Linked DNA regions of Homo sapiens: regions 2 and 3 are each linked to region 1. The links come from fine-mapping of genetic effects on gene expression. A gene starts in region 1. Each other region holds a variant in brackets. All regions are shown on one strand. Distances are from middle to middle. Region 1 holds the start of NAPA (NSF attachment protein alpha). Region 2 overlaps ARHGAP35 (Rho GTPase activating protein 35). Region 3 has its middle 5.9 kb from the start of ZNF541.

Evidence for each region. PIP is the estimated chance that this variant, and not a neighbour inherited with it, causes the effect.
Region 2: its variant is fine-mapped to the expression of NAPA in CD4 T cells (BLUEPRINT, PIP 0.95).
Region 3: its variant is fine-mapped to the expression of NAPA in whole blood (TOPMed, PIP 0.92).

Annotation. Positions count from the first base shown.
Region 1 is chr19:47,510,157-47,520,997 of GRCh38, reverse strand. NAPA (NSF attachment protein alpha) reads left to right here and starts at 5,935. Exons shown (of 11, transcript NM_003827.4): 1 at 5,935-6,155. The coding sequence starts at 6,058. It overlaps ZNF541 (zinc finger protein 541), which reads left to right. Exons shown (of 17, transcript NM_001277075.3): 17 at 1-308. RefSeq lists silencers at 2,492-2,786, 5,647-5,986 and an enhancer at 5,287-5,556.
Region 2 is chr19:46,974,731-46,985,571 of GRCh38, reverse strand. All of the region lies in intron 3 of ARHGAP35 (Rho GTPase activating protein 35), which reads right to left. Among named protein-coding and RNA genes, the nearest start is that of NPAS1, 40 kb to the left of the region's middle. RefSeq lists enhancers at 7,747-8,602, 8,603-9,460. The variant A/G (reference allele first, on the strand shown) is at 6,227.
Region 3 is chr19:47,573,657-47,584,497 of GRCh38, reverse strand. It overlaps the pseudogene RN7SL322P. Among named protein-coding and RNA genes, the nearest start is that of ZNF541, 5.9 kb to the right of the region's middle. RefSeq lists an enhancer at 6,544-6,623. The variant G/C (reference allele first, on the strand shown) is at 5,932.

The DNA of each region.
Region 1 (10,841 bases):
TAGGTTCATAGTCTCTCCCCTTCTTTCCCTTCCACTTCTAGAGCAGGGAGGCTTGGGGAGGGGAAAATTTAGCTCTGGGTAGCTCTTAAATCTTAGCCTCAGTTGTGGGGTTTGGTTTCATGTGTTAGATAAGGCCAAGACTTAGAGAATCAGTGGGAAAAAACCTTGAGATCTCCAACACGCTGGGCCCCTCCCTGGGGCGGGGACTCTACCTTCCAGATTCAGTCCCTAGTCTTGCGATGAATTCTGCATTGTTCGGTGTTTTTTGTACATGTCAACTCGTAAATCTGATTAAATTGGGTTCTTGAGCTGCTGTCTTTGACTTCCCTGCCTATTGATCCAATAAAGGCTTAGGAACCCCACCACGTGCTAAGGGCAGGAGGTGAGTCAGCTGTGGCCTGCCCTGGGGGCTGGGGGCCTTGGGGAGAACACGGGCATGTTGATTTGGACATTCATTCAGCAAACATCTACGAAGCACCTGCTGTAGAATGCACTGGACGTTGCCAATCCGTACAACAGGGATAGTGAAGCAAGAGAGGCCCTTTTCCTCACGGACCTTCTCTTGTAGGAGCAGGAAGGTAGCAGTAATAAGCAAACAAGGTGATTTTAGGTCATGGTACTGGAAATGCTTTTGACTGTAACAGAAGAGTTGGTGTTGATTTAAACAATCATGGAGTTTGGCTGTCCCAGTAGGGGCTCAGCCTTGAAATCAGGGACCCCTGGCAGGGGCAGGGGCAGGGGCAGAACGAGGGCTCCAGCAGAGGCGAGAATAACCTCGAACCAAAATCCAGACCGGCAGGGGGCGGGCGGCGGGGGAAAGAAGAGAAAACAGCCCCCCTCCCTGCCTCCCTTTTTAAGAGTGAGGAAAACTTTTAACAGCTCCCAGCAGATGCCCGTATGTCTCATTGAGCCTGTGTTCGCTTCTAAACTGATCCCTGTTAGTGAGAAGGGAAATGACCACAGTTAGCCTAGACCACTCAAGATGCAGCTCCATGGCCAGGTGCAGTGGCTCTCTCCACTAATCCCAGCACTTTGGGAGGCCAAGGCGGGCGGATCATGAGGTCAAGAGATCAAGACCATTGTGGCCAACATGGTGAAACCCCATTTCTCCTAAAAATACAAAAATTAGCTGGGTGTGGTGCCACATGACTATAATCCCAGTGACTTGGGAGGCTGAGGTAGGAAAATCGCTTGAACCTGGGAGGTGGAGATTGCAGTGAACCGAGATTGCGTCACTGCATTTCGGCCTGGTAGAGGAAGACTCCATCAGAAAGAAAGAAAGAAAAGAAAGGTAGGCTCCGCAGTGGCTCACACCTGTAATCCCAGCACTTTGGGAGGTCAAGGTAGGTGGATCATTTGAGGTCAGGAGTTTGAGACCAGCCTGGCCAACATGGTGAAACTCCGTCTCTACTAAAAATGCAAAAAAATTAGCCAGGCATGATGGTGAACACCTGTAGTCCCAGTTACTCAGGAGGCTGAGGCAGGAGAATCACTTGAACCTGGGAGGTGGAGGTTGCAGTGGGCCAAGATCGCGCCACTGCACTCCAGCCTGGGCGACAGAGTTGTCAGTGGCTCACACATCAGTGGGAGGTGGTCAAGGAAAGGACAGATCAAGGCCAGCAGGGCAGGTTTGAGCCTGAGCAGCTGTAGTTGATGCCATTAGCTCAGATGGGGAATTGACTGCAGAGGATTGATTGCATCAGGGTGTGATCGTGTCTATGATAGGGTGAGCCGTGTTCTGAAGAGCTGGGAAAGTAGACGGCAGCGTGAGAAGGTTTCACAGAGGGCCCACCTATCAGCTAAGGCTTAAAGATTGGCTGGGAGTGGGGCAGAGGTGGACGCTGAGTTTGAAGCAGTTGGAACACTGCAGTTAAGGGAAAGGGTTCAGGTGTGAGATGAACCTCAATTCCATCCTGGCTCCTCTTACCTCCTTGTAAACTAGGGCGAATCACTTTCCCTGTGGGAGCCTCAGTTTTCTCAATCTGTAAAATGGGATGAAAATTGCCCCTCCTCAACCCCCGCAACCTATCAGTTAAATAAAATGTAAATTATGGCCAGGCGTGGTGGCTTACGCCTGTAATGCCAGCACTTTGGAAGTCCAAGGTGGGCGGATCACTTGAGGTCAGGAGCTCGAGACCAGCCTGGCCAACATGGTGAAACCCCATCTCTACTAAAAATATAAAATACAAAATTAGCCAGGTGTGGTGGTACATGACTGTAATCCCAGCTACTTGGGTGGCTAAGGCACAAGAATTGCTTGAATCCAGAGGCAGAGGTTGCAGTGAGCAGAGATCGTGCCACTGCACTCCAGCCTGGGCAACAGAGCAAGACTCCATGTCAAAATAAATAAATAAATAGAAATAAAATGTAAATTAAGCACTTGGGAGGGTGCACCATAAGAACTGAATGGCTACTAGTTAACAAGCTCTCATGTGATTGCTAATATTGTTTGGATCCCATCCTAAATAAATCCAATGAACTCTGGAAATGGAAAAAAATTCCCTGGTTGAAAAGGCTGAGGGGTTATATTATCTGTTGCTGCATGACAAATTACCCTGAAATGGAACAGCTTAAACAGAAGCTTTTACATAGTGTTGCTTTGACAGACATGGAACCAAAACCGCTTGTGGTAATCCAGGCTCACCCCCACCTGCTCTGTGGTCAGGACACAGTGGCAACCACAAGTAGGTGGTCCAGGCAAGTCTATTCATGTATGAAGAGAGTTGGGGGAAGGCTTCTTATGCCTTGCTCGGCTCAGCCAACCCCCTAGATAATAGCGGTTTCTCAAACTGTGGTCCCGGGATTATCTGCATCCTAATTTTACTTTTTTTTTTTTTTGAGATGAGACAGGGTCTCACTCTGTTGTCCCGGTTGGAGTGCAGTGGCACAGTCATAGCTCACTGCAGCCTCAAACTCCTGGGGTCAAACAATCCTCCCACCTCAGCCTCCCAAGGAGTAATTAAAATTTTTTTAATTTTGTGGAGATAGGATCTTGCTTTTTGCCTAGGTTGGTCCTTAACTCCTAGGCTCAAGCGGTCCTCCCGCCTTGGTCTCCCAGAGTGTTGGGATTACAGGCATGAACCACCAGGTCTGGCTGCATCCTAATTATATAGGGTTCTGTTTTTTAAAAATGCAGATTCCTGTGACCCACCACAGACTCAGAATTGGAACCATTGTGGGTACGGCCTTGGAAACTGTTTTATTTAAAGAAGATTTTTAGGATAGTTTTAGATTTGTAGAAAAACTGCAATGACAGCAAAAAAAAATTCCCACATACCCCAGTTTCCCCTATGATTAACATCTTATATTAGAATGGTACATTTATTACCACGTATGAACCAGTATGGCACAATATTATTAACTAAACTTCATAGTTTATTTAGATTTCCTTAGTGTTTTTGTTTGTTTTGAGATGGAGTCTCACTCTGTCACCCAGGCTGTAGCACAGTGGCACAATCTCGGCTCACCACAACCTCCACCTCCTGGGTTCAAGCAATTCTGCTTCAGCTTCCTGAGTAGCTGGGACTATAGGCGCCCTCCACCAGGCCCAGCTAATGTTTGTATTTTTAGTAGAGACAGTGTTTCTCCATGTTAGCCAGGCTGGTCTGGAACTCCTGACCTCAGGTGATCCACCCGCCTCAGCCTCTCAAAGTGGTGGGATTACAGGTATGAGCCACCGCACCCGGCCAATTTCCTTGGTTTTTTAACTCAATGCCCTTCTGTTCCAGGATCCCACCGAAGGTAAGACATTACATTTAGCAGTCACGTCTCCTTGGCTGTGATGGTTTCTCAGGCTTTCCTTGTTTTGATGACTTGACAGTGTTATTTGTTTGAGACGGAGTCTCCCTCTTGTCCCCCAGGCTGGAGTGCAGTGAGGCAATCTCCGCTCACTGCAACCTCCACCTCCAGGGTACAAGTGATCCTCCTGCCTCAGCCTCCCAAGTAGCTGTGATTACAGGCATGCACCACCTCACCGGGCTAAGTTTTTTGTATTTTCAGTAGCGACGGGGTTTCCCCATGTTGGACAGGCTGGTCTCAAACTCCTGGCCTCAAGTGATCCTCCTGCCTTGGCCTCCCAAAGTACCAGGACTACAGATGTGACACACTGCACCCACCAACAGTGTTGAGGAGTACTGGGCAAGTATTTTGGAGGATGTGGCTCAACTGGAATTTGTCTAGTGTTTTTTTCATGATTAGATTGAAAGATCCCAGAAGTAAAGAGCCATTTTAATCACATGACTTATCAATGTTGAGGTTAACCTCAATCACCTAGATGTCAATGTCAGGTTTCTCCACTGTAAATTTAGGCTTTTTCTCCCCTTTCTTGTACCCTCTTCTTTGAAAGGAAGTCACTATGCACAGTCCATACTTACAGAATGGGGAGGTATCCTTCACCTTCTTGAGAGCAGAGTATCTACGCAGATTATTTGGAATTCTTCTGCACAAACTATTTGTCTATTCTCCCCCCTTTATTTATTTGTTCTATATTCATCTATATGACCATAGGCTCATGGATACTTTATGTTTGGGATTATAATCCAATACTACTTTATTTTGATGCTCAAATTGTTCCAGCTTTGGCCATTGGGAGTTCTTTCAGTTGGCTCCTTTGGCATACCCCCTAATTTTGTGTGTGAGCACACGTGTGGAATACTTCCTTCCTTTCTGGCACTACAAAGTTATACTGAGGTGAGCTATGATTGTGCTGCTGCACTCCAGCCTGGGCGACAGACCGAGACCCTGTCTCCAAAACCAACAACCCAAAGAGTGAGACCCTGTCTCAGAAACCAGCAACTCAATTTTCTGGGACAGCAGGAGGTGTGTTTGAGCCTAAACTTTTTTTTTTAGAGACAGAGTCTTGCTATGTTGCCCAAGGCGGGACTTGAACTAGACTCAAACTCCTGGGCCCAAGCGATCCTCTCGCCTCCCGAGTAGCTGGGATTATAGGCACGAGACACCGCGCCCATCTTCGAATCTGAATTTTTTTTTAACACGCTCTCTTCAGCTATTTTTTTTTTTTTTCTGAGACTAAGTCTCACTCTGTCGCCCAGGCTGGAGTGCAGTGGCACGATCTCGGCCCGTTGCAACCTCCACCTCCCCGGTTCAAGCGATTCTCCTCTCTCAGCCTCCTCAGTAGCTGGGATTACAGGAGTGTGCCACCACACCCGGTTAATATTTGTATTTTAGTAGAGCGGGGTTTCGCCATGTTGGCCGGGCTGGTCTCAAACTCATGACCTCAAGTGATCCGCCCGCCTCGGCCTCCCAAAGTGCTGGGATTACAGGCGTAAGCCACCGTGCCCGGCCCTCTTCAGCTATTTTTTATGAAACCAGAGTTAGAGAACCTCTTAAGTTTTTGTTTGCAGTCTCTCTTCACCGGTCTCCCCAAAGCAGTTCTAGTACTGGCCGACAGAGGGAGCAAGAAAAAGCAGAACGGTTTCCTTTTCCCACAAACGCCTTTCCAAGTGAAGAAACCGGCGAGACCAGCCGCGGGGGCGGGACTAAGTTCTGCGCAGAACTGTCAAACCCGGGCGTGGGCCCCGAGCTGTCACGTGAGTGTCTGCGGTCAGCTGACTGTGCCAGAGTTCCGCGGGGAGGGCGAGTGGGGGACCCCCCGCCCCAGCGCGAGCCGAGGGCTCCTGCTGATTGGTGGAGGAGGATCCAGCAGCAACACCGTGGGGCGGGGCCTCGGCGGGGGGTACTGCCATTGCCTTCCACAGGGTCACGTGGGAGGTGAGGTACAGAGCGCTGGGGAGAGAGTGGAGCGCCGTTCGCCGGTATGTGCGCATGCGTTGAGGTCTCTTGACGCCGATTGGGGGGTCACGAGTCACGGGCGGCGTGCGGCGGCTGGTGGGGGCGTGTCCGGCGGAGCGGGCGCGGCGTTACGAGGCCGCTGGTTGGCCAGCGCTAGTCACGTGGTTCCTGGCCGCAAGCGACGCGCGCCGGTGCGACGTCAACGCAGCCGGGCGAGTTTTACCGATCTGTGTTCCGCGGCCCGGCCGCGGCTGAGTCTTCCCAGGGTCAGGGTCAGGCGCTTTGCTGAGTCCCTTTGTGGCCGCCATGGACAATTCCGGGAAGGAAGCGGAGGCGATGGCGCTGTTGGCCGAGGCGGAGCGCAAAGTGAAGAACTCGCAGTCCTTCTTCTCTGGCCTCTTTGGGTGAGAACCGGGCTGAGGGGTCGGCCGGGACCTAGGCTGAGAGGACGAAGGAGTCACGCTCGGAGGTGGCGGGTTAGGGCACGCAGAGCTCGGGCCGAGGGGACGGAGAGGAACCTGCAATAAGGTGACATGGCCTGAGGCGGCAGAGGGGACGCAGGCTGAGGGCCAAGAGCCTGGGCCGGGGCAACACGGTTTGAGGAGAGACGGTCTGACATGGCGGAAGGGATTTGGGCTGAGGACACACGGACCGAGGCGACACTATCTTGAGGCGAGGAAGGGGACCCAGGCCGAAGACAGGCCAGCGGGCGGGGGAGAACCTGGACCGAGGGAGTACGTCCTGAAGCCTTGGAGGGGACCGGCCTGGGGGGACGGAGGGAGTCCGGGAGAGAAGCCAGGTCCAGAGGCTTTTCGGAGCTCTAGGGGAGTCTGTTTGAAGGCTCTCAGGCGGCAGTGATGGGGCCTGGGGCTGAGGACGCCTGCCCGAGGGACTGACCTTTTCAACCCCTGGAGCAGTGGATTTGCGTGGGCCCTGGGCGGTGAGGGTGAAGGCTGAAGGGGGCTGACACCAGGCAGAGGGGCTCAGGGCTAGATGATCCTAGGAGCGGTGAGCCGCGTCTGAAGTGTGGGGGGTGCATGGGGTGAGTACGGCCCTGGTTAGCAGTGACTAGTTTAAGGACAGCTGAACGGAGGAACCCGGGATGATGGAGTCAAGACTGTGGAGGTCTCAGCACTTTGGGAGGCCGAGGTGGGCAGATTATCTGAGGCGGGGAGTTCGAGACCAGCCTGGACAACATGGTGAAACCCCGTCTCTACTAAAAATACAAAAGTTATCTGGGCCTGGTGGCGGGTACCTGTAATCCCAGCTACTCGGGAGGCTGGGGCAGGAGAATCACTTGAACCCGGAGGTAGAGGTTGCAGTGAGCCGAGATCGAGCCACTGCACTACAGCCTGGGGGACAGAGCGAGACTCTGTCTCAAAAAAAAAAAAAAAAAAAAAGAAAGAAAGAAAGAAAAAAGCCTGAGGAGGCCTGGGTTGAGGCTGGAGACTCCTGGGTGGGGGAATGCGTGGTGGTGGCTTGGCCAAGGAGATGGAGGGATAACAGGGAGAGACAGGGGGACTGAGAGAACCAAAACGGGGGATCAAATTCCTGCTGTGTGATCCTCGAGTAATAGGGATGACAGAGACATGCTGAGAAGAGGGATGGGAAAAGGCCTGGGAGACAGAACTAACACATATGACGTGGCATAAAACTCACGTTAGCTCCTAAAAGCTGACACGACCATCCTGTGATAAATTGTAGTGGCTTAGAAGTGCCAAGAGCCCAAGTAGCTCTGCCACTTACTTCATGACTTTGGGTAAATTGTTTAGTCTCCCTGCTAAAGGAGATCACAAATCAAACCTACCTCCCATTTGCTATGAGTGTTAGAATTGAGCCTGGCGTGGAGTTACATCTCTGAGAGTGTTAGCTGTTGTTAATGTGACTTCCAGAAGGAAACAGGTTCGGAGCGTGCAGAGAGCTGATGGGGGTTCAAGGTGGACGCCCGAGCGGAGAGGTCTGGGAGGGGTCAGGAGAGGGAGAGACTGAGAAACATGAGTGTGCTAAGAGGAGCTGAAAGGGAACAGAAAAGGGATCCACGAAGACTTAGTAGGGTTGAGAGGAGCATGAGGCTCTGGGCAGAGGAAGGAGAAGGGAGTTTGGCAGGGGGCGGTGGTGTGGGAGGTGGTGGGATCTGTGCTGATGGGACGACCCGAAAGGGTCAAGGGGAGGTTGTGGAAACTGAGAGGAGACCTGGGAAAGGACTAGTGGGCTTGTAGAGAGAACAGTGTGTGGTGGCCACTCAGAAGCAGAGCCTGGGGACGGTGGTGGGACTGGGAACATCTGCAGAAGGCTGGAGAAGGGGGTTTGGGAGGAGGGCCTGGGGATGGGAAGAGACTGTGGTAGGAGCCTGGCAGAGGCTGGTAAGACACGAAGGAGAGGGATCTTTACAAGAGAGGAAGGAACAGGAAAAGGGCTCTAGGCCACGCCCCTTGTTTGAGGTTGGATAATGTTTAGCAAAATAACTTGAAGAACATGATGGCGAATTGCCTGGTGTGGAGAAACATCCGGGGCTGATGGACTGGATTGATTAGGTGAAAAATGTTTTATTTTAGAGGCTGCGAGGAGAGAGAGGGTGTGTGTGTGTTTCTTTTTCTTCACAAGGGGAGAAGTTCAAGTGCTGTGTTTGGGGGTGGGGCCACGAGCTGGGTTTTTGGTGATAGTTTTCCTGGGTGGCTCTGGGTGTCTGGTCCCTTTGGCCCAGGGATTAGTGGGCTGTTGGACTGTGTGCTTGGAGGGAGCAGCTAAGTCAGCCCCAAGGCATTTGCTACCTGATTGGGAAGGCAGGATGAACAGCAAACACCAATAAAGTGGAATTACCTACTGTAAGGAGGGGCTCGATGATGTCATTCCTGTGACTGTCTGAGCTCAGAGGAAGCAGCGTGAACCAGGGGGAGGCTCTTGGTGAGGAGTGAGCTGGGCCCCAAGGAATCCCAGGACTTGCTGGGGAGTGGGGCCGGGGAGGGTGCTCTAGGCAGCAGGGATGGTGCAACAGAGATCTACCGTGACGGGAGGTTCTGCCTGGAAAGACAGGGAACTGAGATCCAGAGGGATCAGAAATGGCTTCCTGGGGGAGAGGCCCCAACCCTGGGGGGATGAACATGAGTTCTGGGGTGCTCTCTGGCAGGGAGCAGCACTCCAGGCAAGGATTATTATGGAGCATGCCTTAGGAAGATGGAACACAGGGAGTTCCACGTTAGACCATAAAGGTGGAAGCGGCAGGTGAGGCCAGACAAGGAAGGTCTGGTGAGCAAGGGCTGGGCCTGGAGGAGGCACTGAAGATCTCCGAGGAGGCTAAGGGAGGCCCATCCTGGCGAGCTCCTGTTTGCCTTCTAGAAAGGACTGCAGCAGCTGGTGTGGGGGAGAGTGACAGCAGGAGGCTGTTGCAGTGCCGGTAATACTAGCAGATGCTGGTTATTAAGTGCTCGCTCTGACTCAGACCCTGGCCTGGGCCAGGCTCAACCTGCTGATGGATGGTATGGATTTAGTCCTTACAAAATCCCCGTGGAGGTAGAGAAACTTGGGGGCTTAGAGAAGTTGACTTATTTGCCCAGCCCCACAGTAAGTGGGAGAAGTGGCATTCAAACCCAGTTCTGTGTGATTCCAGAGCCTTCTCACTTAGCCCCTTTGCTGTGCTACCACGGTAGTTTCTCCTCAAGGTTCATGACCATCTCTGGGCACTACATTTAGGAAGGATGTTGGCAAACTAGGTGTGTTGGAGAGCTGCCACCCTCTTAACTGTCCTCCCATGGCTGTTTTCTCCAAATATGTGAAAAAAAGAGCTGGTGTGTTCATCTCAGTTCCTTCCAGCTCCCAGAGGAGCTGACCTGGTGCTGTGGGAGTATGAGTGAGGTTAGGGCAGAGGGCAGGGAGGATGGGAGGCTGGCCTGACCGGAGCTTGTGTGCCTGGGAGCTGGGAGCACAGCCAGAGGCCAGCTTGGGAGGACCTGCTTGGCGGGCGGGAATCACTCAGGCACCTCCTCCTCTCTGATCTGGGTTTGCTTGTGTTCAACATTTCATAACCCACCTTTATTCAAGGTCCTTGGTAGCTGCCGGGACTGGAGAAGGGAGCGTTGCGGCTCAGCTTGTCCTTGGTGCCTCTCCCTTCCCCTTTGGGAACCCCAGCAATGACAGCATCCCACATTGAGGGGCCTCTGCCCCTGTCAAAGGGCAAGTCAGAGAGCCCGCACCTGGGACGCAAGGCGATGGGTGTCTGTGCTGTCGCCTGCCTTGGTGCTCAGATGCCACCCTTGCTCTTCATTATTTCTGGGCTGCCAGACGCTAGGGGGCTTTGATGCACCAGCAGCCACTGAAGGCGACAGCACCAGCCAGTTAGGAGAAGCTCAAAGCCATACCTGTTCCTCCCCTTGGTGATGGGGGCGCAGCTCAAACTTCTGCTCTGGAAGCAAAAAGACGGAGACTTCCTAACTACAGCACAGTGAGCCAGCAGCAGAAGGGGATGGCTGAGTCCAGGCACACTAGTTCCTCCTCCCTGCTGCGTGTCTCCTGGGGAATCCAGAGTGCCTGCTGTGCCGTTTGGGGATCCTGCAGGTTCTGAATGGCGGCTCTGTTCCCTGGGGCTTTTCCTCATCCCTGATGTTTCCCAGCCACCTCCCCTGTCCCCAAAATAGCCAAAATAAAAACTTCCTTCCTCTTGGATACAAACGTGTAGAGGGAGTTTCTTCATCTGTGAAATGAAAATCATGGTAACTGTTTCCTCAGGTGGTTTTAAGGATAAATGAGACGATGTGTGGGAAGTGGTGGGAGCACGTTGCCTGGCTCTGCTAATGTTTATTAAGGGCTCACTGTCATCTTTATTAGTAGGTATTGTCATTGGAAGTTGAGCTAGAAGTGCTGGAGAAATAGGTGGCAGAGGGTGTTCTGTATACAAACAGTGCATTCCTAAGATCAGATCTTGACAAATCAGTTCCTGTTTGAACTACCTGTAGGCAATAACGGCGGGACCCTGGGAGGGCCAGCTTGTCTGTACAGGGCCTGCCCAGGGCCTTGGCTGAGACTGGTGTGGGCACGAGCTTCCAGATTTCTCTCCAGACCGCCTTCCTCTGCAGAGCGTGCAGAAACCCCGGCGC
Region 2 (10,841 bases), 540 kb after region 1:
GGGTAGGTAGAGAATACACACATGAGGAAACTAAGATTCAGAAAGGTGAAGTCCTTGCCCCAGATCATAGCTGCTAAGAGGCAGAGTGGTCTGAGTCCGGGGACTCTGCCACTGTCCTGCCTCCTTAGTGTTCCAGAAGACACCTGGCTCAAGCTTCTGCTGCTTCCTATTAATCCACCAGGCTGGGGTACAGACCACAGCACCCCCGTTTCTCAGAAGCAGCACCACACTTGGGTGAAGCCCTCTGGCCTAAGCACCAGGGCAGCTTTTGAGATGGCACACCCGTACCCCCTGTGCTGTCGAGACCCTGCTCACCAGCACTAGTTAGTAATTTTTCCACTGACTCTTTTCTCAACTGCTCTCAAGACATATTTAAACTTCTACCTATTTCACATATGAGCAAGCCTTGGGTATGTGTCAGCAGGCTCAAGTCTTCATCTCCTAATTTGAAAAAAACAAATAAAACTAAATCTAAGTTATTTTCCCTTTCCCTGAATATCAGCCCTACATAATACAAAGAAAATGACAGGACAAATAGCACCAGTCTCAAGAGTCCGGAATAATGCAGCAATGTCACCGTTCCTGAGTCTCAGTGTAGAGAGGCAGTCTCCGAGCTGCAGAAGACCTGGCCAGCCGAGGGCCGCACATCACCTTCTGGTGACCCTGACCTTCAGCGGGACTGAGGACTGCTCTGCATTGCCTCATAATGGCCACCGGCCCCGGCATGAGAGGGCAGGAGACGAACTGCAAATTAGCGATCTGGCAATTATCAGTGGTGTGGACCTGCTGAAACTTCACTAGATGGATCGTCACACAAATGGAAGCACTGGAAAGCACGAGGCCGTACCAGAGCATCAATTAATCATCAACTTAGTACTTCCTGTCATCTGGGCACATGTTTATTTTACGCAATCCCATTTTAAAATAGCAACCCTGCTGCTGTCGTACACAATACCACGGCGTAATTTAGGAAAGGTAGCATTTGCTTGGCTAGTGCAATTTATCGTAACTACTAATTAGACATCAATTAAAAAAAGATTAAAAAAACTGAGAGCAGGCTGCAAACACCACCAAGGCTGCAGGGAGCTGGCAACCCAGGTGAGAAACAGGACGCTGGAAAGAGCACGGGCAGCTTGCCAAAGGCCTGAGACCACAGCAGGAAAAGGGCTGGGGTCCTGGAGCAGACCCCCTGGCAAAGATGCTGGATATTAAGGCATTTGTGTCTAGAACACCCCACTGTTCCTACATGGAAACACCCTAGGGGTGACTCTGGCCCACACCCGCCAGTGGCAGAAGGCAGAATTCTTACCAACAGTGACCTCCACCCACCATGTCTACTGCAGGCTCCCAAGTCCATCTGAGAAAGCCTCAACCTTAAACTCACAGGCATCCTTACCTACCAGAAATCTCCAAAGACCCATGTCACCAAAGCATAGCCTTGGCTGCAGGCCTTTTCTGTTTCTCTCCTTCTTTTTTAAAAGCCCTCCCTACTGGCTGCAATTATCTTCTATGTTTAAGTTAATCTTTGGAAATAGAACAAGAAAAAGCTCAGAACAGCCAAGATCACTATGTTCAAATATCTGAACAAGGCCATGTAGAAAAGTCTTGTTCCAATGGTTCTAGGGGACAGAGCTACAATCAAGAATGGGAATTACAAGGCTGGGTGCAGTGGCTCATGTCTGTAATCCCCGCACTTTGGGAGGCCGAGGCGGGCGAATCACGAGGTCAGGAGATCGAGTCCATCCTGGTTAACATTGTGAAACCCCGTCTCTACTAAAAATACAAAAAAAATTAGCCAGGCATGGTGGCGGGTGCCTGTAGTCCCAGCTACTCGGGAGGCTGAGGCAGGAGAATGGCGTGAACCTGGGAGGCGGAGCTTGCGGTGAGCTGAGATCGTGCCACTGCACTCCAGCCTGGGTGACAAAGCGAGACTCTGTCTCAAAAAAAAAAAAAAAAAAAAAAAAAGAATGGACATTACAGAATGGCAAATATTCTCTCAATATATAACTATTAACAGCCATAGCTGTTATTCATTGAAATAGACCAGAATTTTTGAATCTCCTCTCACCAGACAACCATCTGACTGGGGTACTGTTTAAAAAGATGAATACCTGGTCTAGGAAGCTAGCTAATAACAATAATGATAAGCCATTTATCAAATGCTTACTCTGTATGAGGCACACGGTGCTAAGTGCTTTCGTGCCTTTTCATAGCAGTTCTCACAATAACCCCTCCAGACTGGTGATTATTATCCCATTCTACAGACAGGAACGCTGAGACCAGGAGGTAAAGGAACATGTAGAGAATGAGTGAGTCGCACAGATGGGATTTGAATCCTACCTGAGTTCTTCTTCTATGATGCTCAAAATCACTATTTCTCAAGAGTGAGCATGCAGCAGAGTCACCTGGAGGGCCTGTTACGGTGCAGGTGCGGGGGCTCCAGCCACAGAGTTTTGGATTCAGTCAGTTTGGAGGGGAGCCCAAGAATTTTTTTTTTTTTTTTTTTTTTTTTTTTTTGTACACAAGGTCTTGCTTTGTCACTCAGGCTGGAGTGCAGTAGCACCATCTTGGCTCACTGTAGCCTCAACCTCCCAGGCTCAAGCGATCCTCTCACCTCAGCCTCCTGAGTAGCTGCGAGGGACTATAGGTGTGCACCACCACACCTGGCTAATTTTTAAATTTTTTTTTCGTAGAGATGGGGGTCTCACTTTGTTGCCCAGGTTGGTGTCAAACTCCTGGGCTCCAGCGATCCTCTTGCCATTGCCTCCCAAAATGCTGGGATTCTGGGTGTGGGCCATTGCGCCTGGCCTCAAAATCTGCATTTCTAATGCATTCCCAGATGATGCTGCTGCTGCTGGCCAGCGAACCACACTTGGAGAACTGCCATTCTAGAAGATGTGCCAGAGCTCTAAGGCTCCAGAGAAGTCTTAGTCAGAACTCTTGAATTCTATGATTCAATAAAATCAGGGGTAATATACCAGGCAAAATAGATACCACATACTTTAGGAACAAAGCACTTCCAAACAGCATGAAAACTGCTGCTTTTTATACGAAAACAAGCCCTTAGGCATTGCTTAATCTTTTTTTTTTTTTTTGAGACAAAGTCTCACTCTGTTGCCCAGGCTGGAGTGCAGTGGCTCAATCTCGGCTCACTGCAACCTCCGCCTCCTGGGTTCAAGCGATTCTCATGGCTCAGCCTCCCGAGTAGCTGGGATTACAGGCGCCTGCCACTGCACCTGGCCAAGTTTTGTATTTTTAGTAGAGATGGGGTTTTGCCATGTTGGCTAGACTGGTCTCAAACTTTTGAACTCAAGTGATCCGCCCGCCTTGGCCTCCCAAAGTGCTGGGATTACAGGCATGAGCCACCGCACCCGGCTCCTTTACACAGTTTTCAGTCTTGGTCTTCCACAAAAATACTTTGGCAGGGCAGGCGTGATGGTTCCCGCCTATAATCCCAGCACTTTGGGAGGCCAAGGCGGGAGGATTGCTTGAGCCCAGTTCGAGACCAACCTGGGCAAAACAGCAAGACTCCATCTCTACAAGAAATAAAAAATTAGCCAGGCATGGTGTCATGCTTGTAGTCTCAGCTACTTGGGAGGCTGAGGTGGGTGGATCATTTGAGCCTGGGAGGTTGAGGCTGCAGTGAGCCATGTCCATAACACTGCACTTCAGCTTGGGAGACAGAGTGAGACCCTATCTCAAAACAAAACAAAACAAAACAAAACAAAACAAAACAAAACAAAACACCAAAAAATACTTTGGTGACATAGGAAGACTAGACGGCCCTCCGGTGAGAGCTGGTGGGGACTTCCCCATGGACTAGGAACTGGTATTTCAGCCCTTCGACTGCCCTGTCAGAGCTGTGGTGGCTGGCCCTGCTCCTGGGAGGTGTCTGTGGCAGGACGGACACTAAAAAAATGGAGAGATGCCCCTCAGGAGCTTGGAAATCAATGGGGAAAATCACCTCCTTTCCTGGTATCCTGATTTTCTGAAATATCCAAACAGGTTTTGATCCTGGACCCCAGGCAGGCCCTTCTTAGCAGCAGTGCTGTCGGCCAGCGTCAGGCTTCGCCTCTGCTCCTTCACACCAGGACTCAGTTCCTCCAAAGTTTCCTTTCTAGCAACACATCAATACTTCCTCCAAGACGAACTCAGACTTGCTTATTTTTTACTTTCTATATTTAGATATAGAAACTCAGCACTTAGTCCTTTAAAAAAATTTAATTGGCACTGCTAGTACTCTAAAACACCCCATGCCAGGCAGGACTTAACTAACAACTTTTGTCGACTTTTCTGGAGTCTGGAAGCATCTAATAAACCATTCCCTTTTTCTTTTACACATGCAAGACTAAGTCTAAGGCAGGCTAAACTGCAAGGCCGGAGGGGTGCTGAGCACTCAGGGAGAGAAGGAAACTCTTTGAGCATTAAATTCAAATGGTCTTGAAGAGGACCGACCTCTGTGGAAAGGTATGAAGCCCTTCTTTTTCATCCAATGCTAACAGTGTATCTATGGTGTGTCTTCTGAGGACCACACTGCGGCACTCCCCCAATCTCACCTCAATGGAAGATCAAAGGGTGAGGGGGCAGGAGAGCATTTAGGTCAAAATCAAAGCAATCATGTCTCCATTTCCTTCTATGTGTAACAGAGATAACAGTTCTCACCTCATCCCCTGGTGGTATGTATTTAATGAGATCTTAGCACTTAGTGCTGAGAGAGTAGCTATTATCCTAATGATCTAAGTGGAAAGCTGGTTGGCAAGTGGATGAGCACCTGAGTTCTGCTGTCAGGGAGACATGGGTTCGAATCCTGCCCCTGACCTCAGCTAATCTGACCGTACAATGGAATAAATGAGATCGTCTATGCACAGTCCACTGCACAATGCCTGCCAGTATTCTTTTTTCTCTACACTCTTAACAAGCCTCAACAATGGCACCTGCCTGTAGGCATGACCTATTCTGAGAGCGTGGCCAAAACAAGACAGTTTGTAGAAAAACATTTTAAAACATGCATGGCTTTGACACCAAAATGACCTTGGTTCTGATCCTGGTTCTGTCTTATAGCTAGGCTGGGTGTCTGAGAGTAAATCGCCTCTCCTCTCAGGGGCTTGGAATCCTCATCCAAAATGGGGTAATGACATCATTAATGAGTCTGTCAAGATGCTGTAAATATTATTATTATTTTTGAGATGACAAGAGTTTCACTCTTGTTGCCCAGGCCAGAGTGCAATGTGCAATCTCGGCTCACTGCAACCTCCGCTTCCCGGGTTCCAGCGATTCTCCTGCTTCAGCCTCCCGAGTAGCTGGGATTATAGGAACCCACCATCACGCTTGGCTAATTTTTGTGTTTTTAGTAGAGACGAGGTTTCACCATGTTGGCCAGGCTGGTCTTGAACTCCTGACCTCAGGTGGTCCGCCCACCTTTGCCTCCCAAAGTGCTGGGATTACAGGCATGAGACACCGCGCCCGGCCCTCAATTTTCTCTTCTATGAACTGGAGGGCAAGGATGTCTGGCCTGAGAAGAACGACGGCCTCCTCTCCATAGAGAAGGTTTCCTCGCTGTGTCTCTCCGCAGAAGCGCTACTATTGAAATCACACGAGTCCCCGCAGCTCCCCCTGCTGCCTTCCTGCTCGGGAGGTGCCTGGGTGGTTTTCTGGCTGCTCTCCTCCTTGAACACTCGGGTCCTCTGTCCCTCCCCTGCCCCTTCGTTAGCTGTCTTCCCAGGTAATTCCCCTGTCAGTCAAGACCTGCTTCTTCCTGTGCCAGACTTTCCCCCCATGATAGAAGGCCACTAACACTCTATTACGATGACTTGACTGGGTGTGAGTGCCACAAGCAGGCACTGTGGCTTTATACATTCCCGATGCCAGCGATGCGCACACGGCCATGTCATAAATCTCAGGGCTGAGGAGGAGGGAGGAGGTGCAACATCGCACCAGGTCTGGGGGATCAGATGGCTCTAGCATCTGGCTGATCCTTCAGAAGCTGCCTATGCATTTGCTGCCATGAACCGTCAAGTAGGACTTCTGGACCTGCTCTGAGCCCAACAGGGGGCTCCATTCTTTTCCCTGACTTTCAAGAAAATGCATATCCCAACAGCTGGGCTTAAGAAACCACGCTGGCAAAGAACTTGAGGCCAGCCTAGAGCTGACACCCTGCCCATTCTGGAGGAAGAGTGTGGTCCATAATCGAGGTGAGCCGACTGCGCTCTGCAAAACGGGAGTGAAC[A/G]TTCAAAGCCAGGAGCAGCTGGGAGAGCCGTCCTGCCAAGAACGTGAGACGTCTTCATGCTCTGAAGTGTGACTTTGCTGGCATGCCCACGCAGGCCCAGTGGCACTGGAGTGATGGCAGTGTGACTCCGAGGAGAGCTGGTGCCACCACTGTGAGGGATCTTACAGGCTAAAGATCCACCAACAAAGAAACAGACCGCGAGCACAATACAGGTGTACTACATCCACCACATACACACCCCCCTACAAACACACACACATCCCACCACACACACCCCACCACACACACACATCCCACCACACACCACACCCCCCCACACCTGCCCCACCACACACACACACACGTCCCACCACACAAGCCCCACCACACACACACTTTCCACCAAACCCCACCACACACACACAGCCCACCACACAAACCCCACCACACACACACCCCACCACACACACCCCCACACCACACACACAATCCCACCAAACCCCACCATACACACACCCCACCACACAAATCCCCCACCACACAAACCCCCTACCACACACACACATCCCACCACACACACCAGACACATTCCACCACACACATGCCCCACCACACACACACACCACACAGACTCCACCACACACACATCCCACCACACACATGCCCCACCACACACACATCCCACCACACAAACCCCACCACACACACCCACCACACACACATACCCCACCGCACACACAGCCCTACCACACACACCACACCACACCCCCCCCACACGCCCCACCACACACACATCCCACCACACACACACCTCACCACACACACACATCCCACCACACACACACATCCCATCACACACGCCACCACCACACACACACATATCCTACCCCCCACACACAGACCCCACTACACACACACACAAAACACCCGCTTCCTTTCCACGGCAGGCCCAAGTAGAAAAGCCCCTTGGGGTTACAAGCAGATTCCTCCCAAGCATTAAGGAGGGCAGAGGTTAACTTCCTTCAGGTTCCTGATTCCCAATGACCCATGAAAGGAGGCAAACATGTCACCAATCACAGCCCAGTGTCCCTTCCTTTCCTGGCCTCTCTTCCCTAAGAAAGAATACTTTTCAGAGTCAGAAGCCTGTAAGCCTCAGGCAGGAAGGCTGATCCCAGTCCCTGCAATCTAGGATAAAAATCTAGGGTACAACACAAACTTCTCAACATGTGGCCTCGGGGGCTCCTGTCACCAGGCTCAAGCCTGCCACCCTCCCCTTATACTTCACTGCAGTCCTGATGAACTTGCAGGGCCTCCCTACAGTTGTTCCTTCCACTTTTACCTCTGTTCTGTGACTAAACAATGCTCCCTCCGAGGTCTCCCCTGACTCCTAGACTAAATTAAGTTCCTGTTATAGGATCCCAACAATTGCTTACATTTACGCAGTGCCGGCACTCTGGGCCAAGGCCAGCCATAAGCCTTTTACATGCACTGTCTCACCCAGTCCTCACACCAGCTCTGTGAGTTGTATTCTACCATTCTTCTTCCCATTTTATAACTGAACAAACTGAGCCACGTGGCAAACAGATGGCAGGGCTGGGATTCACACCCGGGCAGTCCGATTCCAGAGTCTGTGTTTAATCAATCACCACAAGGCACTGTCTCCATGCTCTTCCTGGACAGCCCTGGGCACCATGTGAAAGTCGCTGGATAGCTGTGTGATTAGCTGCTTAATGCTGGTCCCCTGGTAGACCCCTGAGTTCACAGGAGCAGGCAGAGTCCTCTCATCACCCGTCTGTGTATTGGGCTTGCACAGTAACTAGTACCAGGGAAGGCATTCAGTAGCTGTCTTCAGAAAGGAGGGAAGGAGGAAGAAAAGTGCAGCGTTTCTCCAGCTGAAGAGAGGGAGGAAGGCGACTCAAGTGTTTGTTCTCAAGGGGCCTGTGCCTTACTGGGGCCAGCATGGAGGAGCTGCTCCCTAAGCGGCTGGAGCATCCAACTCCTACTTTCCTTTCCAGATGTATTGAGGTTCTACATTCACCAAGAAGCCTTCTCCCTCCCCTTCTTCCCGGTAACTTCACTAGGAACGTAGTGGGTTCATTATTTCGCCACAGCCAGTCATGTGCTGCTGTTAAGTCTGGTCTCCAGACCTGGCTGTTAACTTTTACAGGGCAGAGCCATGGTTTGGCTGTGGCTGGGAGTCCCCACAGGGCCACGCCCCCTGCAGAAGCTGGCCACATTCTTGCTAATGGGCTGCTCTGTCGCCTTTTATCAGGGCTCAGCCTTCCCAGACTGACCTTATGCGGGTCTTAGATGTTTTTACAGTGAGTGTAACACGGAGGAGAAGAGGTTAGTTCATCTGTGCTTCACTGGCTTTGGTGAAATGAACAGGAAAAAAGCAGAGGTCAAGGAAACTGACAGGGGTTATAGAGGCATGGGGATTTGCTGGGTGTGAAACCTCATGAGCAAGGCAGCACAGAAGGTGTGCGTGTGAGTGAGATGAACAGACAGACACAGAGCAAGAGCAAGGGCCACCGGAGCCCCCAGGTGATAATTCAATGGCACAGTCAGGCCAGCTCCACCAAGGGCCCGAGAAGGTCCTGCAGCCGAGAGTGGGTACTGCTCCTTGGGACCACTCTCACAGGACAGCCTGCTGTACCGTCCTGTTTGTACTGCCTTGGCAAATATGGCAGGACAGGCCATGGGCCTGGTTGGCACGCTCAGGCCAGAGCAACCTGTCTGCCCGAGCTCCCCACCATGGAGAAGGCGAGTGCAGCCGGGACAGCCAGGCAAAGCAGCCGGCTGGAACCGTCTCGGGGCCTTGGGCCGCCACCCAGACTATTTCTGTCTTGGATGGAAGGCCAGGGTTACTTTGTGAAACAAGCTCTACTTCTCCTTGGCTGCTGGGCTCTCCAGGCGGTGTGCCAGGGCACACTGTTCTGATCAGGGCACTGGGGCCTGAGGAAATCCGCTAGCAATGCCGAGTCACAAGCTAAATGAACCCTGCTTATCTGGAACAGGCAAGAGCTGGCGAGCTGACTGCCTGCCTTTATGGCAATGGGGAATTTCTGGAATGCAAGTGACTTGTGCTTAACTTATAAGCAAGCAGAAAAACGGGAGGGTGGTGAGGAATGGTAGCAAAAAAAAAAAAAAAAAAAAGGAGAAAGCTTTGTTTTAAAACTATTTGGACTGTGGGAAAGCAATTTGTTAGTAAAACTAGAATTACAGGGGGAGGGAGAGAGATTAAGTAACAGACAGCCCCCATAAAAATCACAGCATATGAAACAGTATACCTCATATTTTAGCACTTTATCAATTCAAAGCAGTGCAAATACGGCAATTACTCACATAAAGCCTGTTGGTGTATTCAAGCTATAACCGTACCTATTAAACTGTTACAGTGATAGATGGGAGTATCTATACTGAAATTAGCTGCCTTCTCTGAAAGACAGAATTACATAGATCTAGGCTGACTGCAGGGAAATAGTAACTAACTGAATTTAACAGCTCTCGTCCCGCCAACTCTCCTTCATGATAGCTCTAGGAACTGGTGGCTATGATGAATGTGGAGGGAAACACGGAGGTTTTTTGCAGGGTGGCTGTTTTCCAAGTGGGAAGGTATTTGGTAAAATTCTGAATCTGCTCAGTCCAATGCTATAAAACTCACAGCTTCATCAGCCTAAAGCAGAGAAGACAGGAAAAGGGCTGGAACGTAGGCCTTTTCCATTCTGATGGGCTGTGAACGGCCTCTGCCAGAGGACTTGGGGATTTCTGTTTCCTCTTGTAAAAAGGGATTAGCATTACTTTGAGATTAATACTGTCCTCTGGCTCACGGGAGATTAACTAATAAACCATGTATGGGGTGTAAAGTGAAGAACAAGCCCCACACAGGCCCAGGATTCTCACTGTGCTGCCGCGGCACACTGGCCCCTGAGCTCCCAGCCCCAGGCTGGGCCCTCCCTGGTGCTCCTTCCAGATGTAGAGGCTGGCAGCCTCCTCTCCTGCGCACCCTCAGAAGGGTGCAGGAAGCCCACTAGCAAGGTCTTAAATTTAGGACCCCTGCAGGAGGGGATGGGGCAGTGTAGTAGAAGAAATATATATTTGGTTTTTGTCCCCGGCTCCTAGCACAGAGTTCCCCAAAGTCTTGGAATTTCCTGAGTGATAGAAGTATCTTTTGTTACTCATTAACAAGCCCCTTCTGGCCAGGCATGGTGGCTCATGCCTGTAATCTCAGCACTTTGGGAGGCCGAGGCAGGCCGATCACGAGGTCAGGAGTTCGAGACCAGTCTGGCCAACATAGTGAAACCCTGTCTCTACTAAAAATACAAAAAATTACCCGGGTGTGGTGGCATGCGCCTGTAATCCTAGCTACTCAGGAGGCTGAGGCAGGAGAACTGTGTGAACCCGGGAGGCGGAGGTTGCAGTGAGCCGAGATCGTGCCATTGCACTCAGCCCAGGCAACAGTGAGAGACTCCGTCTCAGAACAAACAAGCCCCTTCCAACCAAACCTGAGTTTCATGATAATGAGGTTACTCTTGTGGGCCCCTAGATAGTGCAGGATATGGGGGCTGGTCTCCAGAAAGACCAAACCTTTATTAGAGGGTTGGAACTGTCAGCCCCACCCACGACCTCTGGGGGT
Region 3 (10,841 bases), 64 kb before region 1:
ACCTCCACCTCCTGGGTTCAAGCGATTTTCGTGCCTCAGCATCCTGAGTAGGTGGAATTACAGGCGCAAGCCACCACACCCAGCTAATTTTTGTATTTTTAATAGAGACAGGGTTTCACCATGCTGGCCAGGCTGGTCTTGAACTCCTGACTTCAATTGATCCACCCACCTCAGCCTCCCAGAATGCTGGGATTACAGGTATAAGCCATCGTGTCCGGCTCTGTCTGGGTAAATGCTGGGTAATGCTCTGTCTGGGTAAATCCACTGCACCCAGCCTTACTTATGCATGTTTTTACATCCAAAGCAACTGTGGCCAAATAAGATTTTGTCAGAGACTGGCAGATTTAAATTCATTTATTTTAAAAGTAATATTTGGGAGGCCAAGGTGGGTAGATTGCTTGAGCCCAGGAGTTTGAGATTAGCCTGGGCAACATGGCGAAACCCTGTCTCTACAAAAAACACAAACATTAGCTGGGTATGGTGGTGCATGCCTGTAGTCCCATCTACTCAGGAGGCTGAGCTGGGAGAATCACCAGAACCTGGGGAGGTCAAGGCTGCAGTGAGCTTTGATTGTGCCACTGCACTCCAGCCTGGGCCACAGAGTGAGACCCTGTCTCAAAAAAAATTAAAAAGTATTAATTATTAGCTGGGTGCAGTGGCTCACACACTTTGGGAGGCTGAGGTGGGGGGATCGCTTGAGCTCAGGAGTTTCAGACCAGCCTGGGCAACAGAGTAAAATGCCATCTCTAAAAAAAAAAAAAAAATTAATTATCTACTGCGTGCCAGGCACTGTTCTAGGCAACAAAACAGACAAAGCCCCTGCCAGCATGAAGCTTACATTCTAGCAGAGAGACTGACGATCAACAAACAACCAGGTGTGACGTGATGTCAGGTAGAGATGAGCTTCCCGAAGAAAATAAACTGGAGAGAATAGTCAGTGGAAGGAACCTCCCAGCAGGGGACAATTGAGCATAGACTGAGGAGGGGAGGGAAGAAGCCAGGTGAATCTTCTGGAAAGAGGGAACAGCATATAGGAACTTGCTCTGTTGGTGTGCTTGGAGGAGAGCAAGCCTGAACAGAGAGTGGAGGTGAGGCCAGAGGGTGGACAGACCAGATTTACAGGATGTGGCGAGGGATGTTGGATTTTATTGTGTGATTTTGTTGTATTTTATTTATTTATTTATTTATTTATTTATTTATTTATTTATTTATGAGACAGAGTCTCTGTCACCCAAGCTGGAGTGCAGTGGTGTGATCTTGGCTCACTGCAACCTCCACCTCCCAGGTTCAAGCAATTCTCCTGCTTCAGCCTCCCCAGTAGCTGGGATTACAGGCATGCACCAGCACGCCTGGCTAATTTTGTATTTTTAGTAGAGACAGAGTTTCTCCACGTTGATCAGGCTGGTCTCAAACTCCCAACCTTAGGTGATCTGCCCACCTTGGCCTCCCCAAGTGCTGGGATTACAGGTGTGAGCCACTGCAGCCAGCCAAAGAGAGGAATTTTTACATCACTTTTAAATAAGCCCATTTTCAAATATATATAAAAATAAAAGAGTATGATTAACTCCACATGCCGGTCACTGGGCCTCACCAATTATCAACTCATGGCCAATGCTGTTTCATTTCTACCGTCTCTCATTGGCCCCACCCTCACCCCACTAGATAGTTTTAAAACACATCCCAGACATCACATCATTTCATGTACAGATTATTCATTTCATATCTCTGGAGATAAGGTTTGTTTATAGAAATATAACCACAATCCCGTGATCCATCTAAAAAATGCACCATAATTCTTTCCTATCATCGAATAGGCAGTCAGAGTTCAGATTTCTCTACTTGTCTGATAATTTAAAAACAAAACGAAACAAAACATTGGTCTGTTCGACTCAGCATCCAAAGTCCTTGGGTTGCATGTGGTTGATTTGTGGCTACAGTCTCTCTTATCTCTCGGTTCCCTCAAGGGAGGAATTCTTTTTAAAAAATGAATGGAAGAGGCAGGAGCATTTGAGGATAGTGATGGGCATGATTTGGCAGAAGGAGAGAGAGATGATGAATGATATAGGAGACAGGAAGAGAAAGAGGAGAAGAGGAGGAAATGAAGAGGAGGGAGGAGAAAGAGGGGGGAGGGCAGGAGGAAGAGGAGGAGGAGAGGAAGAGGAGGGAAGGAGGAGGGGAGGAGGAGGGGGAAGGAAGAGGAGGAGGAGGGGGAAAGGAAGAGGAGGAGGACAAGGGGAGGATGAAGAGGAGGGGAGGAGGAGGACAGGCAGAGGAAGAGGAGGAGGAGGGGAGGAGGAAAAGGAGGAGGAAGAGGAGGAGGGGGGAGGAGGAGGAGAGGAGGAGAAACTTCAATGGAAGAGGAAAGAGGGAGAGAAGGAGGGAGGTGGAAGGGAAGAAGGAAGGAAGGAAGGCAGGGAGGGAGGGAGAGAAGGAAGGAAGGAAGGGCGGGAGGCAGGGAAGGAAGGAAGGAAGGAAGGAAAGAAGGAAGGAAGGAAGGAGGGAGGGAGACCCCAATCCTTGAGAGAGGGAATCACAGGGACAGATGACAAGGGGGTTCCCTTCTGATGGCTTCTATGTGCACAGGGAAGTGTGGGACCTAGTCATGGGCTGGAGGGCAGGGGGGAAATGTAAGCACACCAGAGACACATAGAGAGTGCCCTGCGCCTGTCTGAGGCCTGTGATTTCTCTGATTCAGGTAAAACCCGTTGGGCTGGCTGGGTGGTTTCCTTCTGCTGGGCTCGGCTGGCACAGAGAAGAGGATGGCTGGAGTTTGGCCAGGTGAGTCCTTTAGAGGCCGAGAGGAGTGAGGAGTGTGAGAATGCTTGAAGGACGTGATTCAAAAGACAAATCACAGAAAGCAATGCTGAACAAAGTGAATAGATGGAGACAACAGGAAAAGGTTGGCAGAGAAGAGGAACCTGCGGCCAGGGTGTACCCCTCTCCTTCTGAAGAGCATCTTTTCCCTTAGCTTCTCAGGGGCTTCCATTTTATTTTGTTTTGTTTTGTTTATGAGAGATAAGGTCACATTTTGTAGACCAGGCTGGAGTCCAGTGGTACAATCATAGTTCACTGCAACCTCGGACTCCTGGGCTCATGCGATCCTCCCACCTCAGCCTCCTGAGTAGCTGGGACTATAGGCACATGCCACCACATCTGGCTAGTTTTTTCTTTTTTTAAGAGATAGGGTCTTGCTATGTTGCCCAGGATGGAGTGCAGTGGCTATGCACAGGCATGATCCCACCAGTGATTAACACAGGAGTTTTGACCTGCTCCATTTCCAACATGGGCCAGTTCACCCCTCCTTAGGCAACCTGGTGATCCCCCGCTCTCAGGAGGCCACCAAACTGATGCCAAACTTAGCGTGGACCCTGCATTGGCATAGTGTACTACAGCCCAGAACTCCTGGTCCCAAGTGATCCTCCTGCCTCAGCCTCCCGAGTATCTGGGACCACAGGTGTGTGCCACCATGCCTGGCTCCCTTACTTTAAAAAAAATAATAATTCTATCTATGTCCCTAAACTGCTTATTGTTTAGCTTTGCCTGTGTTTTGAAATGATATTTATTTTTGAGACAGAGTCTCACTGTGTTGCCCAGGCTGGAGTGCAGCGGTGGGATCATGGCTCACTGCAACCTCGACCTCCAGGGCTCAAGTGTTCCTCTCACCTCTGCCTCCTGAGAAGCTGGAACTACAGGCAGATCACGCCACCATGCCCAGTTTATTTTTAATTTTTCTTGCCATGTGGTCCAGGCTGGTCTTGAACTCCTGGCCTCAAGTGATGCCTCCTGGCTCGGCCTCCCAAAGTGCTGGGATTACAGACACGATTCACCACACCCTGTTGAAATGTTATATGTAAATGGGAGCACATCTGTGTTGCTGTGTGTAATGGAAATTGACTCATTTTCACTGCTGCATAATACTCCATTGAATAACTATACCACGATTTATCCAGTCTCCTATAGGTGGACATTTTCATTTCCTTTCCTTCTTTTTTCACCCTAAACTTTTTATTTTGGAGTAATTTTAAATTTACTGGAAACTTGGAAAGATGGTACAAAGAGTTACCACATCCCCCTCACCCTTTCCCTGATGTTGGCATCTTACTTTATCACAGGACAGTCATGTGCCACATAACAACGTTTTGGCCAATAAGAACTACACATATGACAGAGGTCCTGTAAGATTATAATACTGTATTTTTACTGTACCTTTTCTTTTTTCTTTTCTTTTCTTTTCTTTTTTGTTTGAGATGGACTCTCGCTCTATCGCCTAGGCTGGAGTACAGTGGCGAGGTCTCGGCTCACTGCAGCCTCCGCCTCCCAGGTTCAAGTGATTCTCCTGCCTCAGCCTCCCAAGTAGCTGGGATTACAGGTGCCTGCCACCACACCTGGCTAATTTTTGTATTTTAAGTAGAGATGGGGTTTTACCATGTTGTCCAGGCTGGTGTCGAACTCCTGACCTCAGGTGATCCACCTGCCTCGGCCTCCAAAGTGCTGGGATTACAGGCATGAGCCACCACGCCTGGTCTACTGTACCTTTCTATGTTTTGATGCACAAATACTTACCTTTGTGTTTCAGCTGCCTACAGTATTCAGTACAGTTGCATGCTGCATGTTTGTAGCCTAGGAACAATAGGCTACACCATACAGCCTAGCTGTGTGCTAGGCTATACCATCTGGGTTTGTACAGCTTACGACGTTCACGCAACAAGGAAAAAATCACCTGAAGATACATCTCTCAGACAGATCTCCGTTGTTAAGTGACACAACTATACATTTGTCAAAACTACAAAAACATTGGCCAGGCTCGGTGGCTCATGCCTAAAATCCTCATACTTTGGAAGGCCGAGGCAGGCGGCTCACCTGAGGCCAGGAGTTTGAGACCAGCCTGGCTAACACAGTGAAACCCCGTCACTACCAAAAAATAAAAAATGTATAAGCCAGGCATGGTGGTGCACTTCTGTAGTCCCAGCTACTCAGGAGGGTGAGGCAGGAGAATGGCTTGAACCTGGGAGGCGGAGATTGCAGTGAGCCCAGATGGCACCACTGCACTGCAGCCTGGGCGACAGAATGAGACCCTGTCTCAAAAAAAAAAAAAAAAAAAACACACACACACAAAACAGGCGGGGTGCAATGGTTCATGCCTGTAATTTCAGCACTTTGGGAGGCTGAGGCGGGCGGATCACCTGAGGTCAGGATGAGTTCTAGACCACCCTGGCCAACATGGTGAAACTCCGTCTCTACTAAAAGTATAAAAATTAGTTGGGTGTGGTGACGGGCGCCTGTAATCCCAGCTACTCTGGAGGCTGAGGCAGAACCTGGGAGGCGGTGGTTGCAGTGAGTCAAGATCATGCTATTGCACTGCAGCCTGGGAGACAGAGCCAGACTCCATCTCAAAAAAAAAAAAGGCTGGGCGTGGTGGCTCACGCCTGTAATCCCAGCATTTGGGAGGCCGAGGCCGGCAGATCACGAGGTCAGGAGATCGAGACCATCTTGACTAACACGGTGAAACCCCATCTACTAAAAATACAAAAATTAGCTGGGCGTGGTGTCGGGCGCCTGTAGTCCCAGCTACTCGGGAGGCTGAGGCAGGAGAATGGCGTGAACCCGGGAGGCGGAGCTTACAGCAAGCTGAGATTGCGCCACTGCACTCCAGCCTGGGCGACAGAGCGAGACTCTGTCTCAAAAAAAAAAAAAAACCCCAAAAAGTGGATACATTACTATTAACTAAATTCCAATCTTTGTTGAGATTTTTTCTTTTTTTTTTTTGAGACAGTCTTGCTCTGTTAACCAGATAGGAATGCAGTCCTGAGCTAAAGCAATCCTCTCGCCTTAGCCTGTGGAGTAGCTGGGACCACAGGTGTGTGCTACTATGCTTGGGTAACTTTTAAAATTTTTTCGTAGAGACAGGATCTCACCAAGTTGCCCAGGGTG[G/C]TCTTGAACTCCTGAGCTCAAGTGATCCTCCTGCCTTGGGGTCCCAAAGTGCTGGAATTACAGATGCCTGGCCTTTGTTGGAGATTTCTCTAGTTTTTTAAGTAATGTCTTTTTTTTTTTTTTTAGATGAAGTCACTGTCACTCTGTTTCCCAGGCTGGAGTGCAGTGGCACCATCTCAGCTCACTGACAGCAACTTCCACCTCCCAAATTCAAGCGATTCTCCTGCCTCAGCCTCCTAAGCCTTAGCTGGATTACAGGTGCCTACCACCATGCCCAGCTAATTTTTATATTTTTAGTAGAGATGGGGTTTCACCATGTTGACCAGGATGGTCTCAAATTCTCGACCTCAAGTTATCCACCTGCCTCGGCCTCCCACAGGGCTGGGATTACAGGCGTGAGCCACCATGCCTGGCCTATTTATTTATTTATTTATTTATCTTGTTCCAGGATTATTCAATCCAGAATCCAGGATCCAATCTGTTTCTTTCCTTTCTTTTCTGTTCTTTTTTTTGCTATTACAAACATTGCTGCTTGTTCTTCTGTTGCATCTCTTGGCGCACATGATCAAGAAGTTTTCTAGAGTTAACCCCTGGGTTTGTCAGTGTGGTTCTACCAATTTTACCTGTCACTAGTCCTGTATACTCAGTTCGTCTTGCTTCAGCAAACAGAAAAAAAAAAATGTTTTTTGATTCACCGAAGTGGTAGGTGTGCTGCGGTATCTTTGGTTTTAATTTGCATTCTCTTGTTGTTGTGGTTAGTCCTCACTTCATGTTTCCTCTTGTATGAAGTGCCTCTTCAAATCTTATATTCTTTTTTTTTATTAGGTTGTCACCTTAATTTGTAGGCCTTTAAAATAAATGCTAAATGCTTTTTTTTATTTGAGACAGAGTCTCGCTCTGTTGCCCAGCCTGGAGTGCAATGGTGCGATCTCGGCTCACTGCAGACTCAACCTCCCAGGTTCAAGCAATTCTCCTGTCTCAACTTCCTGCGTAGCTGGGATTACAGGCACGCACCAGCACACCTGGCTAAGTTTTGTATTTTTAGTGGAGATGGACGTTTCACCATGTTGGCCAGGCTGGTCTCGAACTCCTGACCTCAGGTGATCCACCTGCCTTGGCCTCCCAAAGTGCTGGGATTACAAGCATGCTTGGCTAATGCTAATTTTTTGTTTATGTGTTGCATTTATCTTCTGTGTCCATGAAGTGTTCAATGTCTATCAATGACAGAAGATGCTAATTTATTTCAGGAGCTTAAGTCCTGTTTTTTAACTAGATTCTCATCTGTCCAGTGGCTAGGATCCTTATTTCCTCCATCAAGAAGAGAGATTACATGGCTGAAACAAAGCATTTTTAAAATGTGTGCTAAATAAGCGAAAAAAAAAAAGAAAACAAGAAAAAGAAAAGAAGGCCAGGCACAGTGGCTCTCACCTGTAATCCTAGCACTTTGGGAGCTGAGGCGGGTGGATCACGAGGTCAGGAGATGGAGACCATCCTGGCTAACATGGTGGAACCCCGTCTCTACTAAAAATACAAAAAATTAGCTGGGCGTGGTGGCACGAGCCTGTAATCCCAGGTACTTAGAAGGCTGAGGCAGGAGAATCACTTGAACCCAGGAGACAGAGGTTGCATTGAGCCGAGATGGTGCCACTGCACTCCAGCCTGGGTTACAGAGCGCGACTCTGTCTCAAAAGAAAAAAAAGAAGAAAAAGAAAAAAGAAAAAAAGAAAGAAAATAAAAGAAACAAACAAAAAACCCCACAAAACAAAAAGTGTGCTAAATAAAGGAAGAACCCTCTGAAATTGTTTCCAGGAGTTTAATTCCTGCCTTAGCATGACCTGTAAGTCCCTATGCCATCTGCCCCTAGTTTCTTCACTCACGTGGTTCTGGCCACACTGGTCTCTCTTCTTCTGATTTTTTTTTTTTTTTTGAGACAGAGTCTCACTCTGTTACCAAGGATGGAGCACAATGGCGTGATCTCGGCTCACTGCAACCGCTGCCTCCCAGGTTCAAGAGATTCTCATGCCTCAGCCTCCCGAGTAGCTGGGACTACAGGTGTGCACCACCATGCCCAGATAATTTTTTGTATTTTTAGTAGAGATGGGGTTTCAACATGTTGGCCAGGCTGGTCTCGAACTCCTGGGCTCAAGTGATCAGCCTACCTGGGCCCCCCAAATTGCTGGGATTACAAGCATAAGCCACCATGCCTGGCCTCTCTGCTGTCTTTCAAAAGGGTTCCACATCTTCCTGCCTCAGTGCCTGTGCACGTGCTGTTCCCTCTCTTCTTCCCCCAGATATTTTCATAGGACCCTTCCTTACTTCCTTCAGATCTCTGCTCAATGCAATCTCACCAGAGAAGCCTTTACTGACCTGTATAAAACAATACCCTCTGACCCCATCCTCTTTCCTTTGTTTTTCTTCAAGGTATAACATACTGCATTATAAATGTATTTGCAGCCAGGCACGGTGGCTCACTCCTGTAATCCCAGCATGTTGGGAGGCCAAGGCAGGAAGACTGCTTGAGCCTAGGAGTTCAAAACCAGCCTGGCCAACATGGCAAAACCCTGTCTCTACTAAAAATACAAAAAATTAGCTGGGTGTGGTGGTGCAGGCCTGTAGTACCAGCTACTCAGGAGGCTGAGGTGGTATAATAGCTTGGGCCCAGGAAGTCAAGGATGCAGCGAGGCATGATTACAACAATGCACTTCAGCCTAGGTGACATAGTGAGACCCTGTATCAAAAAAATACAACAAAAAAAGTAAATGCATTTGCTTGTCCCCCTGTAGAGGTATGCTGTCAGTACCAGAGCCACTCGCTACAAGGTTCCATGGAGCCCTGGAAATGTGGCTGGTCTGAATTGAGATGTCCCGTGAATGTAAAATACTGTATATGTGGGGTTTTAAAGACAGCCCCAAAAGTGTAAATTATCTCTTAGTTTTTATACTGATAATGTGTTGAAATATTTGGGATTAAATATTACCAAATTAATTTCACTTGTGTTTCTTTCTCTTTTATTTTATTATTTACTTTTATTTATTTGATTTTTAGGTTTGGGTGTGTTGCCCAGGCTGGTCTTGACCTCCTGAACTCAAGCAATCCTCCTGCCTCAGCCTCTCAAAGTGTTGAGATTACAGGTGTGAACCACCACACCCGTCCCAAGCCATTTTTTTTTTTTTTTAAGAGAATGGGTCCCACTATGTTGCCCAGGCTGGTGCAGTGGCTCTACACAGACAGGGCCATAGCTCACTGCAGTCTCCAACTCTTGGGTTCAAGTGATCCTCCTGTCTCAGCCTCACAAGTAGCTGGGCTACAAGTGCCAGCCGCCACACCTGCCTTCTTTACATTTTGTTCCTTTTAAACATGGCTACTAGAAAATGTAAAATTACATAAGTGGCTGGTGCTTGAAGTTTGCATTTTATTACTACTGAACAGCACTGCTCTAAAACATAAGTTCCAGGAGGAGAGGAATGTCTGTTTGACCCAGACACTATATCTGAGCACCTAGAACAGAGACCCAATAAAAACTTGCTAAATGAAGGGATCCTAAAGCAAGATGACAGGCCCTCTTCTTTCCTCTGTTTCCTCCCCCAATAATCAATTAAAAAAAAAAAAAACTTTGAGGTATAATTTACATAAAAGTCACTCACTTAAGTGTATACTTACTGATTTTTAGAAATTTACTGAGTTGTGCAACCATCACCATAACCCTTTTTTTCCCCCATCAGAGTCTCGCTCTATCCCCCAGTCTGGGGTGCAATGGCCTGATCATATAGCTCACTGCAGCCTTGGACTCCCAGGCTCAAGCGATCCTCCTGCCTCAGCCTCCCAAGTAGCTGGGACTACAGGCGCATGCCACCATCTCCAGTTAATTTTTTTTTTTTTTTTTTTTTAGAGACAGGGTTTCACTAGGTTGCCCAGGTTGGTCTCAAACTCCTAGGCTCAAGGGATCCTCCTACCTTGGCCTCCCAAAGAGCTGGGATTACAGGCGTGAGCCACCACGCCTGGCCCATAGCTCAGTTTTAGAATATTTCCATTACCCAGATAAGATCCGCGATGCCCCTTTCCACCCCGGGCAACCACTAATCTGCTCTCATTCTCCACAGATCTTCAGCACTCCGTTTCTAAGGAATGAATTATCTGCCTCAGTTGCAGGACAGTTCAAACCCCTTGGCCAGGTCGGGCACGGTGGCTCAGGTCTGTAATCCCAGCACTTTGGGAGGCAGAAGCAGGCGGATCACCTGATCACCCGAGGTCAGGAATTTAAGACCAGCCTGGCCAACATGGTGAAACCCCGTCTCTACTGAAAATACAACAAATTAGCCGGGCGTGGTGGCACGTGCCTGTAATCCCAGCTACTCGGGAGGCTGAGACAGGAGAATCGCTTTAACCCGGGAGGCGGAGATTGCAGTGAGCCGAGATCGCACCACTGAACTCCAGCCTGGGCGGCAGAACAAGACCCTGTCTCAAAAAAAAAAAAAAAGAAAAAAAAGATGGTCCTTGGCCAGTCGGCACCAGGGCCTACCGCCCTTCCCAACACAGCTCAGCACGGAGCAGGGGCCCCAGATGGCTCAGCCTTTCCCCAAAGAAGGGAGGAATAGGCTGGGCGCGGTGGCTCTCACCTATAATCCCAATGCTTTGGGAGACTGAGGCAGGAGGATCGCTTGAGCCCAGGGGAACCAGGCTAGCCTGGGCAACATGGCGAGACCTTATCTCTAAAAAAAATGTAAAAATTAGCAAGGTGTGGCGGCGCCCGCCTGTGGTCGCTGCTACTCAAGAGACTGAGGCAGGAGGATCGCCTGAGCCCAGGAAGGGGAGGGTGCGGCAGCCGTGATCGCAGCCTGGGGAACAGGGAGAGACCCTGTCTCTGAAAAAAATTTTAAAAAAAGGGAGGAGCAGCTCGCCCCACATCTCCC